2 separate regions of the Homo sapiens genome follow, and region 2 is linked to region 1. A link means that fine-mapping ties the variant in region 1 to the expression of a gene that starts in the linked region. Tissue or cell type: whole blood. Region 1 holds a variant in brackets; the other region holds the start of a gene. All regions are shown on one strand. Distances are from middle to middle.

Region 1 (8,000 bases):
ACGGGTCTCTGGCTGAGCCCTGGAGGAGTTCCTGAGAATGAACAACTCCTGGAAACAGGTGACCCCAGCTGGGTGCTTGTGTGTCAGTCACTGGCTTCAGGCGTATGTGGAGTGGGGGCACAGCCACGGCATCGGGCACGGATGCCCCGGGATCAAGGGGTTAGGCTTGGGGACTAGGCTTGGGGACACCAGGAGCGTCCACGTTTGTCCTCATGATACGGACAAGAGCGACCAGTGGGAATCGGGCACGTGCTGGGCAGGGGTGAGAGGATGGAGGGGTGTGAACTTCGACACCTGACACCCCCCCCGCCCTGCCCCTAGGTTCCTGGCCAACACGTCCTTCCAGGGCCGCACGGGCCCCGTGTGGGTGACAGGCAGCTCCCAGGTACACATGTCTCGGCACTTTAAGGTGTGGAGCCTTCGCCGGGACCCACGGGGCGCCCCGGCCTGGGCCACGGTGGGCAGCTGGCGGGACGGCCAGCTGGACTTGGAACCGGGAGGTGCCTCTGCACGGCCCCCGCCCCCACAGGGTGCCCAGGTCTGGCCCAAGCTGCGTGTGGTAACGCTGTTGGAACACCCATTTGTGTTTGCCCGTGATCCAGACGAAGACGGGCAGTGCCCAGCGGGGCAGCTGTGCCTGGACCCTGGCACCAACGACTCGGCCACCCTGGACGCACTGTTCGCCGCGCTGGCCAACGGCTCAGCGCCCCGTGCCCTGCGCAAGTGCTGCTACGGCTACTGCATTGACCTGCTGGAGCGGCTGGCGGAGGACACGCCCTTCGACTTCGAGCTGTACCTCGTGGGTGACGGCAAGTACGGCGCCCTGCGGGACGGCCGCTGGACCGGCCTGGTCGGGGACCTGCTGGCCGGCCGGGCCCACATGGCGGTCACCAGCTTCAGTATCAACTCCGCCCGCTCACAGGTGGTGGACTTCACCAGCCCCTTCTTCTCCACCAGCCTGGGCATCATGGTGCGGGCACGGGACACGGCCTCACCCATCGGTGCCTTTATGTGGCCCCTGCACTGGTCCACGTGGCTGGGCGTCTTTGCGGCCCTGCACCTCACCGCGCTCTTCCTCACCGTGTACGAGTGGCGTAGCCCCTACGGCCTCACGCCACGTGGCCGCAACCGCAGCACCGTCTTCTCCTACTCCTCAGCCCTCAACCTGTGCTACGCCATCCTCTTCAGACGCACCGTGTCCAGCAAGACGCCCAAGTGCCCCACGGGCCGCCTGCTCATGAACCTCTGGGCCATCTTCTGCCTGCTGGTGCTGTCCAGCTACACGGCCAACCTGGCTGCCGTCATGGTCGGGGACAAGACCTTCGAGGAGCTGTCGGGGATCCACGACCCCAAGGTGGGCGGCCTCGGGGGGCTGCGGGTGGCCTTGGGGGGCTAGCGGTGGCCCCGGGCTGGGCTGTGTGGGGCAGGGGTGGTCAGCTGGACGTGGAGGACGTCCACTAGGCCAACTCTGGTCCCAAGAGACATTTATTCAATTAATTTATTTATTTAAAGAAAAATAGCCGGGCGCGGTGGCTCACGCCTGTAATCCCAGCACTTTGGGAGACCAAGGCAGGCAGATCACCTGAAGTCAGGAGTCTCGAACTGGAGCCTGGCCAACATGGTGAAACCCCATCTTTACTAAAAAATACAAAGAATTAGCTGAGCATGGTGGTGGGCACCTGTAATCCCAGCTACTCGGGAGGCTGAGGCAGGAGAATCACTTGAACCCAGGAGGCGGAGGTTGCAGTGAATCAAGATGGCACCATTGCACTCTAGCCTGGGCAACAGAGCAAGACTCCGTCTCAAAAAACAAAAAACAAAACAAAAAACACAGAGATGGGGGGCTGGCTATGTTGTTCAGGCTGGTCTCAAACGCCGGGGCTCAAGCAGTTCTCCCACCTTGGCCTCCCAAAGTGCTGGGATTACAGGCGTGAGCCACCGCATCCAGCCTATTTTTCTTTTCTTTTTTGAGACAGTCTTGCTCCATCGCCCAGGCTGGAGCGCAGTGGCACGATCTTGGCTCACTGCAACCTCTGCCTCCTGGGCTCAAGCGATTCTCCTGCCTCAGCCTCCCAAGTAGCTGGGATTACAGGTGTGCACCACCAAGCCTGGCTTTTGTATTTTCAGTAGAGTTGGCGGGTTTCACCATGTTGGCCAGGCTGGTCTCGAACCCCTGACCTCGTGATCCGCCCACCTCGGCCTCCCAAGTGCTGGGATCACAGGTGTGAGCCACCACATCTGGCCCGTATTATTATTATTTTTTTTTGAGACAGAGTCTCACTCTTGCCCAGAGCTGGAGTGCAGTGATCTCAGCTCACCGCAACCTCCACCTCCCAGGTTCAAGCAATTCTCCTGCCTCAGCCTCCCACAGTGCTGGGATTAGACGTGAGCCATCGTGCCCGGCCTCCCCTTGTAATTTCTTGGCAAAGTCGGGTTTTCTGCCCCGTAGTGTCTCTGAACTTTTGGATCTGCCCAGTGGTGTCCCCTGGGGGTGCCTGGCCTGCTCCCCAGCCCCTGGTGTCCCCTGTGAAACGGTAGTAAAGCGTAGACGCCATGCTGTCAGGTGAGCCGACTGCTGCCGGCGGCTCTTCCAATGTAAACGCTGCACAGCTGAGCCGTCAAAGCCTTTTCATCATACGGAAACTTCCATCAGATGCTGCTGACCCACAGGCACGATGGGATTCAAGTTTGGGTTTTTGGTGGTGCTGGAATCCCGTGGGGAGGCCGTGGCTGGTGTGACCTCAGCAGCCAGACCCACCTACTCATTAGGGGTCTGCACCAGGTTGCCCTGGCAGCTGTGGGGAGAACAGACCACGGGTGGTGCAGGGAGGACCCCGCAGAGGGGCCTGGGCTGGTCGAGGATGTTGATGGGGAAGGAGGCTGGGTTCGACGCTGGGCCCCAACCTGGGTAGGAGCTGTGGAGGGGTGAGCAGTGGGCAGTTCCCTGTGTTGCAGGTGGCGCCCCCCAGGGTTTTCGGGAGAAACAGGGTGTCAGAGGCAGTGACGACAGAGCTGCCTCCGCCTGGGGTGGGAAGAGCGAGTGGGGGCAGATCAGGAGTGGGGTCATGGACATGTTAGAGTGGGGCTCCCGTGGGACCCCCAGGGGAGAGGCAGAGGAGGTGGTGGGATAGGCGTCCAGCCCAGGGCGAGGTCCAGGTGGAGATGGACTTGCCGGCGTTTAGAACAGAGGGTCTCCACCCGGGGTGATCCTGCCCCCCGCCCCAGGGGACCCTGGACAGTGTGTGTCTAGAGACAGCTGTGGTGGTCACGCCTGGGGTGTGCTCTGGGCATGGAGTGGGTGGAGGCCAGGAATGCAGCCTCGGCGCCCTGCAGTGCCCAGGACGGCCCCACCCCGGAGAACGGCGCGCCCCTCAATGGTCAGGGGTCCTGAGGGGCAGGCAGAGGCGCTGACGGGGTCCCCCGCGCAGCTGCACCACCCGGCGCAGGGCTTCCGCTTCGGCACCGTGTGGGAGAGCAGCGCCGAGGCGTACATCAAGAAGAGCTTCCCCGACATGCACGCACACATGCGGCGCCACAGCGCGCCCACCACGCCCCGCGGCGTCGCCATGCTCACGTGAGCCCGGGCGCGGGGTGAGGCGGGGGCGGGGCGTGGGGTGGGCGGGGCGATGGCTGACCCCCGCCCCCGGCCCCAGCAGGAGCGACCCCCCCAAGCTCAACGCCTTCATCATGGACAAGTCGCTCCTGGACTACGAGGTCTCCATCGACGCCGACTGCAAACTGCTGACCGTGGGAAAGCCCTTCGCCATTGAGGGTGAGAGGCACCTGGGCGAGGCGGGGCGCCGGGGTCTCTGGGGACCTCCTGGGGGCAGTGGGGAGCCACGGAGGGTTCGAGGTGGGAAGGGGCGAAATCCCACGTGTGCGGGCAGAGTTCCCCTGGGGCTGTCCCACCTGGCCCCACCGCCTGGCCCCGCGCCCCCAGGCTATGGGATCGGACTGCCCCAGAACTCGCCGCTCACCTCCAACCTGTCCGAGTTCATCAGCCGCTACAAGTCCTCCGGCTTCATCGACCTGCTCCACGACAAGTGGTACAAGATGGTGCCTTGCGGCAAGCGGGTCTTTGCGGTTACAGAGGTGGGGCAGGGCCTGGGACAGAGGGTGGGGGTGGGGGTGGGCGTGGGGGGCCCTGAGCCTTGTCTGAAGTGACCAACCCCAGTGCTCATTCCCCAGACGTGCGTTTGTCTGCTTCTGCGCACTTCTATTCACCCTACAAAACCCCGGCTGCAGTGCCCCTTCCTCCATGAAACCTCACTCCCCCCAGCCATGGAGTCCCTGCCTCCCAACCTGGCTCCACTGCCCCAAGCCCCTCTCTCTGGCCCAACCTGTTCTCCCCTAGTTCAAGGCTCCCCAGGGGCCTGCCATTACGTGACCGTGCGGGGCTCCTGCTGTGTTGCCCCCAGACCCTGCAGATGAGCATCTACCACTTCG[C/A]GGGCCTCTTCGTGTTGCTGTGCCTGGGCCTGGGCAGCGCTCTGCTCAGCTCGCTGGGCGAGCACGCCTTCTTCCGCCTGGCGCTGCCGCGCATCCGCAAGGGGAGCAGGCTGCAGTACTGGCTGCACACCAGCCAGGTGGGGAGCGGGTGGGCGGCGGGCGGCCCCACCCCCCCCGCCTCCTCGCCAACCGGGTCTGTCTGGGGTCTTAGAAAATCCACCGCGCCCTCAACACGGAGCCACCAGAGGGGTCGAAGGAGGAGACGGCAGAGGCGGAGCCCAGGTAAGTGGTGGTCGGGGCGGACCACGATGCAGGACCACCCAGACCCACCACCCCACCAGCTCGCCCCGAAGCCGGCCGCGGGGTGCAGGAGGTTCCCGGAGGTCCCCCGCCCACCCCCGGACGTGCACACCGTGGCTCCCTGGTTGTGCCTGTCGGCCATCCTCTGCCGTCAGCGGCCTCTGCAGAGGCCCAGGGCGCGAGACGGCTGCCCCGGCGGACACTGACCAGGCCGGTTCCGTCCCCAGCGGCCCCGAGGTGGAGCAGCAGCAGCAGCAGCAGGACCAGCCAACGGCTCCGGAGGGCTGGAAACGGGCGCGCCGGGCCGTGGACAAGGAGCGCCGCGTGCGCTTCCTGCTGGAGCCCGCCGTGGTTGTGGCACCCGAAGCGGACGCGGAGGCGGAGGCTGCGCCGCGAGAGGGCCCCGTCTGGCTGTGCTCCTACGGCCGCCCGCCCGCCGCAAGGCCCACGGGGGCCCCCCAGCCCGGGGAGCTGCAGGAGCTGGAGCGCCGCATCGAAGTCGCGCGTGAGCGGCTCCGCCAGGCCCTGGTGCGGCGCGGCCAGCTCCTGGCACAGCTCGGGGACAGCGCACGTCACCGGCCTCGGCGCTTGCTTCAGGCCAGAGCGGCCCCCGCGGAGGCCCCACCACACTCTGGCCGACCGGGGAGCCAGGAATGAGGCGGCAGCCGGGCCGTTTGGGCTCAAGACACACACACAGCGCAGTGAGCCGCTGTCAACAGACAGTTTATTCTATATACAAACACAATTTTGTACACTGCAATTAAATAGAATGGAATGAGCGCTCCTCCGCATTCCTCCCCGAGTGACTGGTTTGGCCGCCGGCCCACTCCATCCCCGAGTGGGACTGGACCACGGCCCTGGCTGCTGCCACTGATGTTGGCGCCTGCACCCCACGTCCCTATGCCCGAGGCGCAAGCTCTGCTCTCCCGGGGACCCCAAGCCTGGCGCACACGCGGGGAGGGCGGGGCCATGGAGAAGGCACTGCAGGGAGCACCAGGCAGAGCCGGGCTGAGGCCGGCCGGCACTAGGGCGCGAGGCCCCACCCCAAGCCGGCCTCTCCTCCACACCTCCGCCTTGCTCAGAGACCTGCACCATGGGACCCCACTCCATCCTCAGGACGGTTCACTGCAGACCTACCAAGACCCCTCCAGAACCTTCCGCGGAACCCCACCCCCTCTCCTTGCTGACCAGCTCAAACACCTCACTAGCGGGTACAAGCCTCGGGCGCGACCTCACACCAGGGGGAGGAAAGCCGCCTTCCGGGCAAACCCCACGAAACCCTGAAAGCCCCCGACACAGGCTGGGCAGTCCCAGAGGAAGGAGGTGGCTGGCCTCCCCCACCCCCACGGGCTCGGGAAGGTCAGGCCCAGCCAGCAGGGGTCAGAGGCGGCTCAGCTGTGCGGCTCAGGACCCCACCTCCGAGGGCGCCTCCGTTGGGGCCATGGAGGCCGGGCTAGGCCCGCCTACCGCAGCCCCCAGGGGAGTTGTGTCAGAAGCTGCGGAGTCACTCGGGGGGACACTGTCCTGGGGGGCGTGGGGGAGGCCCCCAGCAGGGCCCAGCGGGCTGGCTGGACGCCGCTCCAGGAGGGAGGCGCTCAGGCCGGACAGGAAGGAGGCGTCTGTGATGATGGCAGCGGTCTCTGCCATCCAACCCAGGTCACCACCGGCAGCTGCTGCCACTGAGGCTGCCGCGGCCACCAGGGAGCTGGGCGCCGCTGCCACAGGCCCGGGACTCCCGCTGGCCCCAGGCGAGACGGGGCCCAGGGCGGGGGGCTGGCCGGCAGAGTCAGGGGCTGTAGCCGGGGCGCCCGAGTTGTTGTTCATGTCATCGGGCAGCGCCGTGGGGGTCCCGGGGCCCAGTGGCGGCGCCTGAAGCAGCATCTCCTGGATGCGGACCTGCTGCAGGATGGCAGGCAGCTCGTAGTGGTGGAAGAAGTAGATCATGGAATGCTGCGGGAGGGAGAGTGGGAGTCAGGACGGGCCCGCCCCTGCCCCACCCAGCCGCTGCTCCCAGAGGGCAGCCCACCCGGGACCATCCACGCTACCTCTGCCCGCTTGGGCCGACCCCACAGGGCATCCTCCCCGGCTGCAGCCTCTCCTGCCTGGAAAGGCACGGCTGGCCTGCCCCCTGCTTGCCGCCCAGGCCTCACCTGGATGAAGAGCCAGGAGGTGACCAGGGCCAGGCTGCTATACTGCCCATTGAAGCGGTAGTGATAGGCATAGAAGGCGAAGTGGTAGAGATAGAAGAACCTGCGGGGCGGGGTGAGGGCGTCGGGGCTGCAGGTCCCACCCTGCCAGGCCCAGCCCCTGGGGTTCCCGCGTGGCGCAGCCACCACCCCCGCCTCCAGCGCCCCTCCCTCTGGCAGCCCCCTACCCCTGCCCACCAGCACCCACTCCACCCTGCCCCCGCGCCACGCTCACCGCAGCCAATGCCGCTTGCTGGTGCTGGTGTGGCAGCAGATGGCGTCATACTGGTCCGCGAGCCACACGATGAGGATGATGTAGAAGGCGGTGGTGGTGTCGTTGAAGAACTCCGACATGATGGCCTCCATCCCTGCAGGGAGAGGCGGCGCCGGTTGAAGCGGGCGGGGCGGGGTGCAGCGCGGGGCGGGGGAGGCCGGGTGGGGTCCTCACCGACGAGGGCCAGGATGACGGTCAGCAGGGGCGCTGCGGGGAAGGCGATGGCCATGTTCATCTCCAGCATCTGCAGCAGGTCCACTGCGGGCACAGGGCGGCGGGCGCCCGGTGAGGGCCTGGAGGACGCCCGCCCCGCCCTGCGCCGGCGGGACACTCACCGATGAAGACGAAGATCTGGTGGTGTGAGTACCGCAGCAGCATGGACACGCTCAGCGTCTGCAAGGGGCGCGCAGGAAGCGCTATGAGGGGCTGCGAGGGCCTGCTTGGCTCCCGCCCGGCCAGCCCCCGCACCCGCCCCGAGGCACTCACGAAGATGACCATGATGGCGAAGGCGGCCAGGTAGGACGTCCGCGCCATCCACATGCTCACAAAGCGGTAGTGCTCGCCCGACACCACATTCCGCAGGAAGCCTGCAGCAGAAGGAGCCGTGAGCGCCCGCCCCCACCCGCGCCCTCGCACCCTCGGCCCCGGGGCATGCCTCACCCTTGTTCTCCTCGTTCTCGGCCAGGCCCTTCACGCTGGACATGAGGATGTCATCGTAGCCCAGGAACTCATCCAGCAGCAGGCGGCTGAAGCGGTCCCCGAAGCACTGGTCCCGCGTGGGGTCTGCGGGTGGG
Region 2 (8,000 bases), 31 kb after region 1:
GAGAGGAAGCGAAAACCACGTCCCCATCCCCAGAATTCTTGGCCTGAGCCCTGGAAAGCTGAGCTGTTGCCTAAGACAAGGCACGCTGGGATGAAGCAGCCCCATGGGCTGGGCGCGGTGGCTCACGCCTGTAATCCCAGCACTTTTGGAGGTTGAGGCGGGTGGATAACTTGAGGCCAGGAGTTCAAGACCAGCCTGGCAACATGGTGAAACCCCGTCTCTACTAAAAATACAAAAATTAGCCTGGCGTGGTGGCACACGCCTGTAATCCTAGCTACTTGGGAGGCTGAGGCAGGAGAATTGCTTGAACCTGGGAGGAGGGGGTTGCAGTGAGCGGAGATCACACCACTGCACTCCAGCCTGGGTGACAGAGCCAGACTCCATCTCAAAAATAAAAATAAAAAACTGAAACAGCTGTATGATGGGTGTGTGGAGTGTGTGGAGTCCCAGACACCCGAGAGATGTGCCTGTGGGGGCTCTGCGCGGCAGGCAGAGGTGACAGGCCGCGGCCTGGTCTCTGTCCCGCCCCCAGGGCCTAGATCTAGGGTCCCTGGCTGCCCTCTGCTGGTACTCCCGGCCCCTTTCCCTCACCCAGGCCAAGACTAAGGGGCTGCAGAGCGGGGTGGACATTGGCGTCAAGTACTCGGAGAAGCAGGAGCGGAATTTCGACGATGCCACCATGAAGGCTGGCCAGTGCGTCATCGGGCTGCAGGTGGGCGACAGCTCCCCCAGCCCCAGGGACCACGGCATTGGGGGACCACGGTGTTGGGGGACAGCAGCATTGGGGGACAGCGGCATGGAGCCCTGTGGTCCCTCAATTTCAGGGAGGGACCGGAAGCTTGTTGGGTGCAGTCTGACCTCTCCCACGAACCTCCCTGCAGATGGGCACCAACAAATGCGCCAGCCAGTCGGGCATGACTGCCTACGGCACGAGAAGGCATCTCTATGACCCCAAGAACCATATCCTGCCCCCCATGGACCACTCGACCATCAGCCTCCAGATGGGCACGAACAAGTGTGCCAGCCAGGTGGGGCTCGCCCGGGTGCCCCCGACTCCTCTCCCTGCCCCTCTACACCCTGTGGTCTCGGCCCCTCCCTGGGGCCACCTCCAGCTTCTCTCCCCACTCTCAGTCTCAGCCCCTTCCCTAGACCACCTCCGGCTTCCCTCCCCGCTCTCTGTCTCCGCCTTGGATTTCAGCCTCTGTCATTTCCACCTGGCTGTGGGTCTCTAGGGAAGTTACTACCTCACCCTGTGTCATTTTCCCTTAAGGACTGCCCAAAGGTCCACCCAATTCTTTTTTTTTAATCTTTATTTATTTTATTTATGTATTTATTTTGAGATAGGATCTCACTCTGTTGTCCAGGCTGGAGTGCAGTGGCACGATCTCGGCTCACTGCAACCTCTGCCTCCCGGGTTCAAGAGATTCTCCTTCCTGCCTCAGCCTCCCGAGTAGCTGGGACTACAGGTGCATGCTGCCACACCCGGCCAATTTTTGTATTTTTAGTAGACATGGGGTTTCACCATGTTGCCCAGGCTGGTCTCGAACTCCTGAGCTCAGGCAATCCACCCGCCTTGACCTCCCAAACTGCTAGGGTTACAGGTGTGAGCCACCGCACCCGGCCACACCCAGCTAATTTTTGTATTTTTAGTAGAGACGGGGTTTCACTGTGTTGGTCAGGCTAGTCTTGAACTCCTGACCTCAGGTGATCCTCCCACCTCAGCCTCCCGAGTAGCTGAGACTACAGGCGCCCGCCACCACGCCCGGCTAATTTTTGTATTTTTAGTAGATATGGGGTTTCACCGTGTTGGCCAGGCTGGTCTTGAACTTCTGACCTCAGGTGATCCTCCCACCTCAGCCTCCCGAGTAGCTGGGATTACAGGCATGTGCCACCACGCCCAGCTAATTTTGTATTTTTGGGAGAGACAGGGTTTCACCGTGTTGGCCAGGCTGGACTGGAACTCCTGACCTCAGGTGATCCTCCCACCTTGGCCTCCCAAAGTGCTGGGATTACAGGCGTGAGCCAGTGCACCCAGTGAAGGTCCCCTCTTCTCTCCACCATGACCTGCTCCACCCCTCCTTCCTCTCCAGGTGGGCATGACGGCTCCCGGGACCCGGCGGCACATCTATGATACCAAGCTGGGAACCGACAAGTGTGACAACTCCTCCATGTCCCTGCAGATGGGCTACACGCAGGGCGCCAACCAGAGCGGCCAGGTCTTCGGCCTGGGCCGGCAGATATATGACCCCAAGTACTGCCCGCAAGGCACAGTGGCCGATGGGGCTCCCTCGGGCACCGGCGACTGCCCGGACCCGGGGGAGGTCCCTGAATATCCCCCTTACTACCAGGAGGAGGCCGGCTACTGAGGCTCCCAGCACGCTCTCTCCCCACATCGTCTGCCCATCTGGGTTTTTGGGTTTTTCTGTGTTTTCATCTTTTTTTTTTTTTTCTTAACCCGTTCAGTGCTGCCAGTCAACCAAGGGTCTGTGAGTGTCAGCGTGGGATCAGGCAGCAGAGCTTTTTTCCCCTTTGCCTTGATCCTTCGCAAGGCTGAGCCACTGGGCTGTGGGGGAAGGGGTCAAGGCCATATCCCAATACGTGTAGGGCGAGGGTCCCTGCTGGCACATTCAGGCTGTGCTGGGAAGAAGAGACCTGGGCTTGGAAGGAACCGGTCCCCGACGGTTTCTGCTTGCCTCGCCTCTTCCCCCTTTTGTCAGCTGAGCAGTTTGTGGTTTCTATGCCCGCAAGTTTCAGGAAGTATTCACAAAAGAAAAATACATTTTTTCCCCCAGGGGTGGGGCAAGGACAGTGGAGAGAGTGCTAGGAAATGAGTCCCCTGGGAAAGGGGACCGGGCCGTGATGTTAAATATCTCCGGCTCCCAAGTGACTGGATTTGCCTAGGACCTTCAGACCAACAGACTTCAGACCCTCAGACCTGCCCCGGGGCCAGGTGGAGAAAGTGAGGGCCGTACAAGGAAGTGAAATTCTGAGTTGTTGGGGCTAAGCCTGACCCCCTCTCCATGCTCCCCGCCCCAACCCACTCTGGCCTCAGTAGATTTTTTTTTCAGTTGTGGTTGTTGCCCAGGCTGGAGTGCAGTGGCGCCATCTTGGCTCACTGCACCTCCACCTTCCGGGCTCAAGCGATTCTCCAGCCTCAGCCTCCTGAGTAGCTAGGACTGCAGGTGCTCCACCACGCCCGGCTAATTTTTGTATTTTTAGTAGAGATGGGGTTTCCCCATGTTGGCCAGGCTGGTCTCGAACTCCTGGCCTCAGGTGTGATCCGCCCGCCTCCGCCTCCCCAAGCGCTGAGATTACAGGTGTGAGCCACCGTGCCCAGCCCCTCAGTAGGTTTTAAGGAGCCCCCAGCCCTCCTCCCTTCTGGGCCCGACCAGCTTATACTGCTCCATCTTCCCCGGCCACATGCCCCGCCAAGTACTGCACAGGGACCCCCCACCCAGGGGACCTGCTCCGTGAGATAATGTGAAATACGACTGTGGACCAAACGCAATAAAACCTCTGTTTGTACGAAGAGAAGGTGGCCAAGAGAGTTGGCGTCGATGAGGGCGTGCTTTGCTTTGATGCTTTTGTGGGGAGAGAGGAGGTCTTGGGGGATGGGGGGATCAAGGGGAAAATGTCCACCTCACCATTGGGAGGAGGAGCAAAAGCTGAAGCCACAGGTGAGTCTGGGTGGAATGAATGATTTGAAGGGCCGGGACTTGGGGTAGAGGGAGAGGCTGGGCTTCCTGGCCATTTGGAGAAGAGGCAGTTCCCTCAAATGCCCCCCATGCGCTTTGGCTGCACTCTACCTTACAGCGCAAGTCTCGTGGCCTCAGCCTGGATGTCTCCCCGTTGGCGAACTCCTATTTATCCTCAAAGCCCCAACGGCAATGCCACCTCCTGCCGCGGGAGCCGTCCCCACGCCTCTCACTCTCCCCAGCGCCTTCAAAGCTGTGGACCCACACGCTCCCATTTCAGCTTCACCTCCAGCCTGAAGAGTTTATTTCAACTCTTCTTCCAGAGTGGGAAACGGGTTTTCCTCAAAATCAGGGTAGCCACTATAATCGGAGACTCTAGAATGTTGGCCCCCTCCCCCTCCTGCCATCCTCTGCAGAAGCCGAGGAGCGTTCGTGGAATGAATGAATGAACGAATGATCTAGTGGAACCCCTACTTTACAGACGGACGAGTGTAGTCCCAGAGTCTGGACTAAACTAGAGGGAGCCTGGCCAGCCCCGGGGACAGCGGGGACAGAGGGAACTCCTGCAATTCGGAGCTGCGGTATTGCAGCCGGTTATACAACGTGGGGAGGCAGCCTGGCTCCCCAAAGACAGCGCAGCCTCGTTCCCGGAGGGCGGCCTGCCTGGGACCTGCCGGGCACTCCGCCACCCTACGGTGATGCAGCAAGAGCCGCGCGGTCCCTTTAAGAAACCCGGCTAGGCGAGGCCCTTCTGTGATCCCGTCTCCTCCCTTGGCCCGCGCAGCTCCGACGGAGCAGGCCAGTGAGTGACGGGCAGGTCGCCCAATAGCAGCGTGCAGAGGCAGGGGCGTGCCCCGGCGCTGCTACCTGCGCGGGCAAGCTCAGCGCACTTGGCTTAAGGGGCGGCGCGCTCCCTGCCTGCTGCTGGGCGGAGGGAAGGCGGCAAGAGCTGCGGAGCCCCTGGAAGGTGAGAAGGACTCGGAGAGGGAAGAAGGCCCGAGACTCGAGAATGCGGGGTTGGGGCCGGGAGGGATGCAAGTTCCCTGGGAATTAGGGGGTCCAGCCTCTGACCTCCTTCCGGTGAATGTTGACGACGGCTGAATTGATCACTGATTCTCAAGGGGGGCATCGGACATCTGGGACCCTTAAGAGGGCCTTTGCCGATCACACACCTGCAGCCCCCTGCCCGTTAGAACTCCTGCACTCCCCCTTGCCCCGTCTTACAAATGGAGAAACTGAGCCCACTCCCCCAGATCCTAAGTCCCGCTTGATGTAAAGGAAAGAACCCTGGCGTAAGGGTCTGGGTCTGAGGTCCCAGTTCCGGCCTGGTCACCTTTAGCAACTTCCTGCCCCTCTGTCAGCGTCAGATTCTCCATCTGTGTCAGAGGTGGACCGGCCCAAGGAAAATAGATCAGGAATCGCTGACTCCAGGAGTCTCTATCCCAGCCCCTTCGCCTGACTCTTTCTCTGGCTCCCGCGGTCCCTCTGAGCGATTAATGCTACATAAGGTGTGGGCAGAGCTGGGGTCGTGCCTCCAGCTGGGCAACTGCCTGTCTCTCTGGGTGCCTGGGTTTGCTTTCTTGGGCCTCGGTTTCCACTTCTGTAGAGTGGGGTGATAGTCCAGCACTTCCCCTGGGCGTGTGAAATGTCCAGCACTGCCAATATTCGTTGCTGTTATCTTCGGAGAACAGTGAGGGGAAAGGAATCCTTGCCTGGGCTGGGCCAGGCAGGAGGCTGGGGGTCAGGACCTGGAAGAGGCTTCCAGGTGAGGCTTGGGGTGGAGCCTGGTGACGAAAGCGTTAAGCCCAAACTCGGTCCCTGGAGGATTAGAGGATGATCTTTAAGTCCCCAGCTGTCAGCCCTGCTCAGAGCGACAGTCCTGGCAGCCAATCAGATGCGAGGACGGCTGCGGGTTGCGCTCCCATTGGTTTACTCCACCCCTGGGGTAGCGGAGCCTCTTTATCGAGTGACTACTGTTTGCCTCGCTCTAATCAGAGCTTCCAGGAACCCTGCGCTGTGGGATAAAGGAATGAGGTTCAGAAAGGGGCAGGGAGTTGCCCGCAGCCGCACCGCACGTCTTCAGCCCGACCGTTGTCCTGACCTCTCTGTCCCGTCCCCTGCCCAGTCTCACCATGGCCTTCTGGACACAGCTGATGCTGCTGCTCTGGAAGAATTTCATGTATCGCCGGAGACAGCCGGTAACGCCCCAGTGTGAGACCAGGGCCGGGTGGGCAGGCAGCCCCCACTGTCCCCCACCGTCTCCCACCTATTCTCCCCCAGGTCCAGCTCCTGGTCGAATTGCTGTGGCCTCTCTTCCTCTTCTTCATCCTGGTGGCTGTTCGCCACTCCCACCCGCCCCTGGAGCACCATGAATGTGAGCCCCCCCAGGGACCAGGCACTTTGTGTGTGTAGGGGAAGGCAGATGGCTCACCCGTGCACAGGAATCCCCCGTGCATGTCAGGGAGCCTTCACCAGGCCGCCAATACATGGCATGGGAGTGAGCTCTCCATCGCTGGAGGCATGCAAGCGGTGCCGGGCGACCCGATGGGGGTGGAGTCAGGCAGAGTCCACAGGGCCTCAGCACCAGGCGTCTCCCCGCAGGCCACTTCCCAAACAAGCCACTGCCATCGGCGGGCACCGTGCCCTGGCTCCAGGGTCTCATCTGTAATGTGAACAACACCTGCTTTCCGCAGCTGACACCGGGCGAGGAGCCCGGGCGCCTGAGCAACTTCAACGACTCCCTGTGAGCCAGAGGCAGTGGGTGCGGCCGGCCTGCAAACTCGGGGCTGCAGTGCCGGCCGGAACCCCGCCTCCTGCCCTCTCTCTGTCCCCAGGGTCTCCCGGCTGCTAGCCGATGCCCGCACTGTGCTGGGAGGGGCCAGTGCCCACAGGACGCTGGCTGGCCTAGGGAAGCTGATCGCCACGCTGAGGGCTGCACGCAGCACGGGTGAGGAGGCCGGGGGGCCTCTGGCAGGGCTGAGCTCTGAGCCTCAACTTGCCGGGCCGTGAAATGGGCACAGGGTGGGGGTGGGTGCCTCAGACCAACGTCCCCCCAGCCCCATGCTCCCGTGCGCTCCTCCCCCAGCCCAGCCTCAACCAACCAAGCAGTCTCCACTGGAACCACCCATGCTGGATGTCGCGGAGCTGCTGACGTCACTGCTGCGCACGGTAGGGTGTCGGGGCGGGACCGCGCTGACTTCCTGGGACACTGCACTGGGGATGTCCTGGCACTGCCCCACCCCGGGCCAAGGACCTCCCGTTCCAGGCATCCAGGCTGTCCCTGGTCTCTGCGGTGATGCTGCTTGTCCGTCTGGGCCCCCAGACAGAGTGTGTCTGACCCAGTGAGGAAGACTCGTCTGTGAGATCTCCAATGAGTCCCTTTGCCTCTCAGAGCCTCAGTTTCCCTATTTGTAAAGTGGGGGCTATGATAGTATGGTCTGCCTGGGAACTGGCCAGAGCGCTGGACCCCTAGTGAGTGTTCAAAATCATTGTCCCCCTTGTGGTCTTTCTCCCCAGGAATCCCTGGGGTTGGCACTGGGCCAAGCCCAGGAGCCCTTGCACAGCTTGTTGGAGGCCGCTGAGGACCTGGCCCAGGAGGTACGAGGCCCCACTCATCCTCAACCCCCATGGAGGCAACGTTGGCAGGCAGCCTGCGCCGGGAGGGTCTGGGGCAGCCCGGGCACTTCCCTTGGGTGGGTTTTCAGGAGGATTAGACAGCGAGAGGGAGAGGCTGCCCCTGGCCCAGTGCCCTGCCCTGGTTAGGGCTTGGAGGTGGGATCATTGCCAGCTCCGTCTGGTAACCTCTCTCTAGCTCCTGGCGCTGCGCAGCCTGGTGGAGCTTCGGGCACTGCTGCAGAGACCCCGAGGGACCAGCGGCCCCCTGGAGTTGCTGTCAGAGGCCCTCTGCAGTGTCAGGGGACCTAGCAGCACAGTGGGCCCCTCCCTCAACTGGTACGAGGCTAGTGACCTGATGGAGCTGGTGGGGCAGGAGCCAGAATCCGCCCTGCCAGACAGCAGCCTGAGTGAGTGACTGACCTCGGTTTCCCCTCTTGGGAAGTGGAACTCTGGGCAGGGGGGCAGGGCCTCATGGCACCCCCATCCCAGGCCCCGCCTGCTCGGAGCTGATTGGAGCCCTGGACAGCCACCCGCTGTCCCGCCTGCTCTGGAGACGCCTGAAGCCTCTGATCCTCGGGAAGCTACTCTTTGCACCAGATACACCTTTTACCCGGAAGCTCATGGCCCAGGTGGGGGCAGCCTGGATGCTGGGGTGGGAGGGTGGTGGCCAGAGCCCATCCAGTACCCTCA

Evidence for each region. PIP is the estimated chance that this variant, and not a neighbour inherited with it, causes the effect.
Region 2: it holds the start of ABCA7, and the variant in region 1 is fine-mapped to the expression of ABCA7 in whole blood (INTERVAL, PIP above 0.99).

The regions. Positions count from the first base shown.
Region 1 is chr19:1,004,200-1,012,199 of GRCh38, forward strand. It overlaps GRIN3B (glutamate ionotropic receptor NMDA type subunit 3B), which reads left to right. Exons shown (of 9, transcript NM_138690.3): 3 at 322-1,354; 4 at 3,429-3,574; 5 at 3,657-3,772; 6 at 3,941-4,092; 7 at 4,419-4,583; 8 at 4,658-4,728; 9 at 4,974-5,533. The coding sequence ends at 5,403. TMEM259 (transmembrane protein 259) reads right to left here. Exons shown (of 11, transcript NM_001033026.2): 5 at 7,867-7,989; 6 at 7,693-7,793; 7 at 7,542-7,599; 8 at 7,381-7,464; 9 at 7,168-7,300; 10 at 6,897-6,996; 11 at 5,454-6,696. The coding sequence ends at 6,151. Among named protein-coding and RNA genes, the nearest start is that of GRIN3B, 7.8 kb to the left of the region's middle. RefSeq lists a silencer at 5,330-5,520. The variant C/A (reference allele first, on the strand shown) is at 4,447.
Region 2 is chr19:1,035,535-1,043,534 of GRCh38, forward strand. ABCA7 (ATP binding cassette subfamily A member 7) reads left to right here and starts at 4,573. Exons shown (of 47, transcript NM_019112.4): 1 at 4,573-4,662; 2 at 5,691-5,893; 3 at 5,976-6,069; 4 at 6,297-6,438; 5 at 6,530-6,642; 6 at 6,781-6,863; 7 at 7,212-7,292; 8 at 7,507-7,717; 9 at 7,800-7,939. The coding sequence starts at 5,828. CNN2 (calponin 2) reads left to right here. Exons shown (of 7, transcript NM_004368.4): 5 at 596-712; 6 at 882-1,028; 7 at 2,091-3,531. The coding sequence ends at 2,366. RefSeq lists enhancers at 2,579-3,138, 2,726-3,227, 3,228-3,727, 5,620-6,417 and a silencer at 5,569-5,708.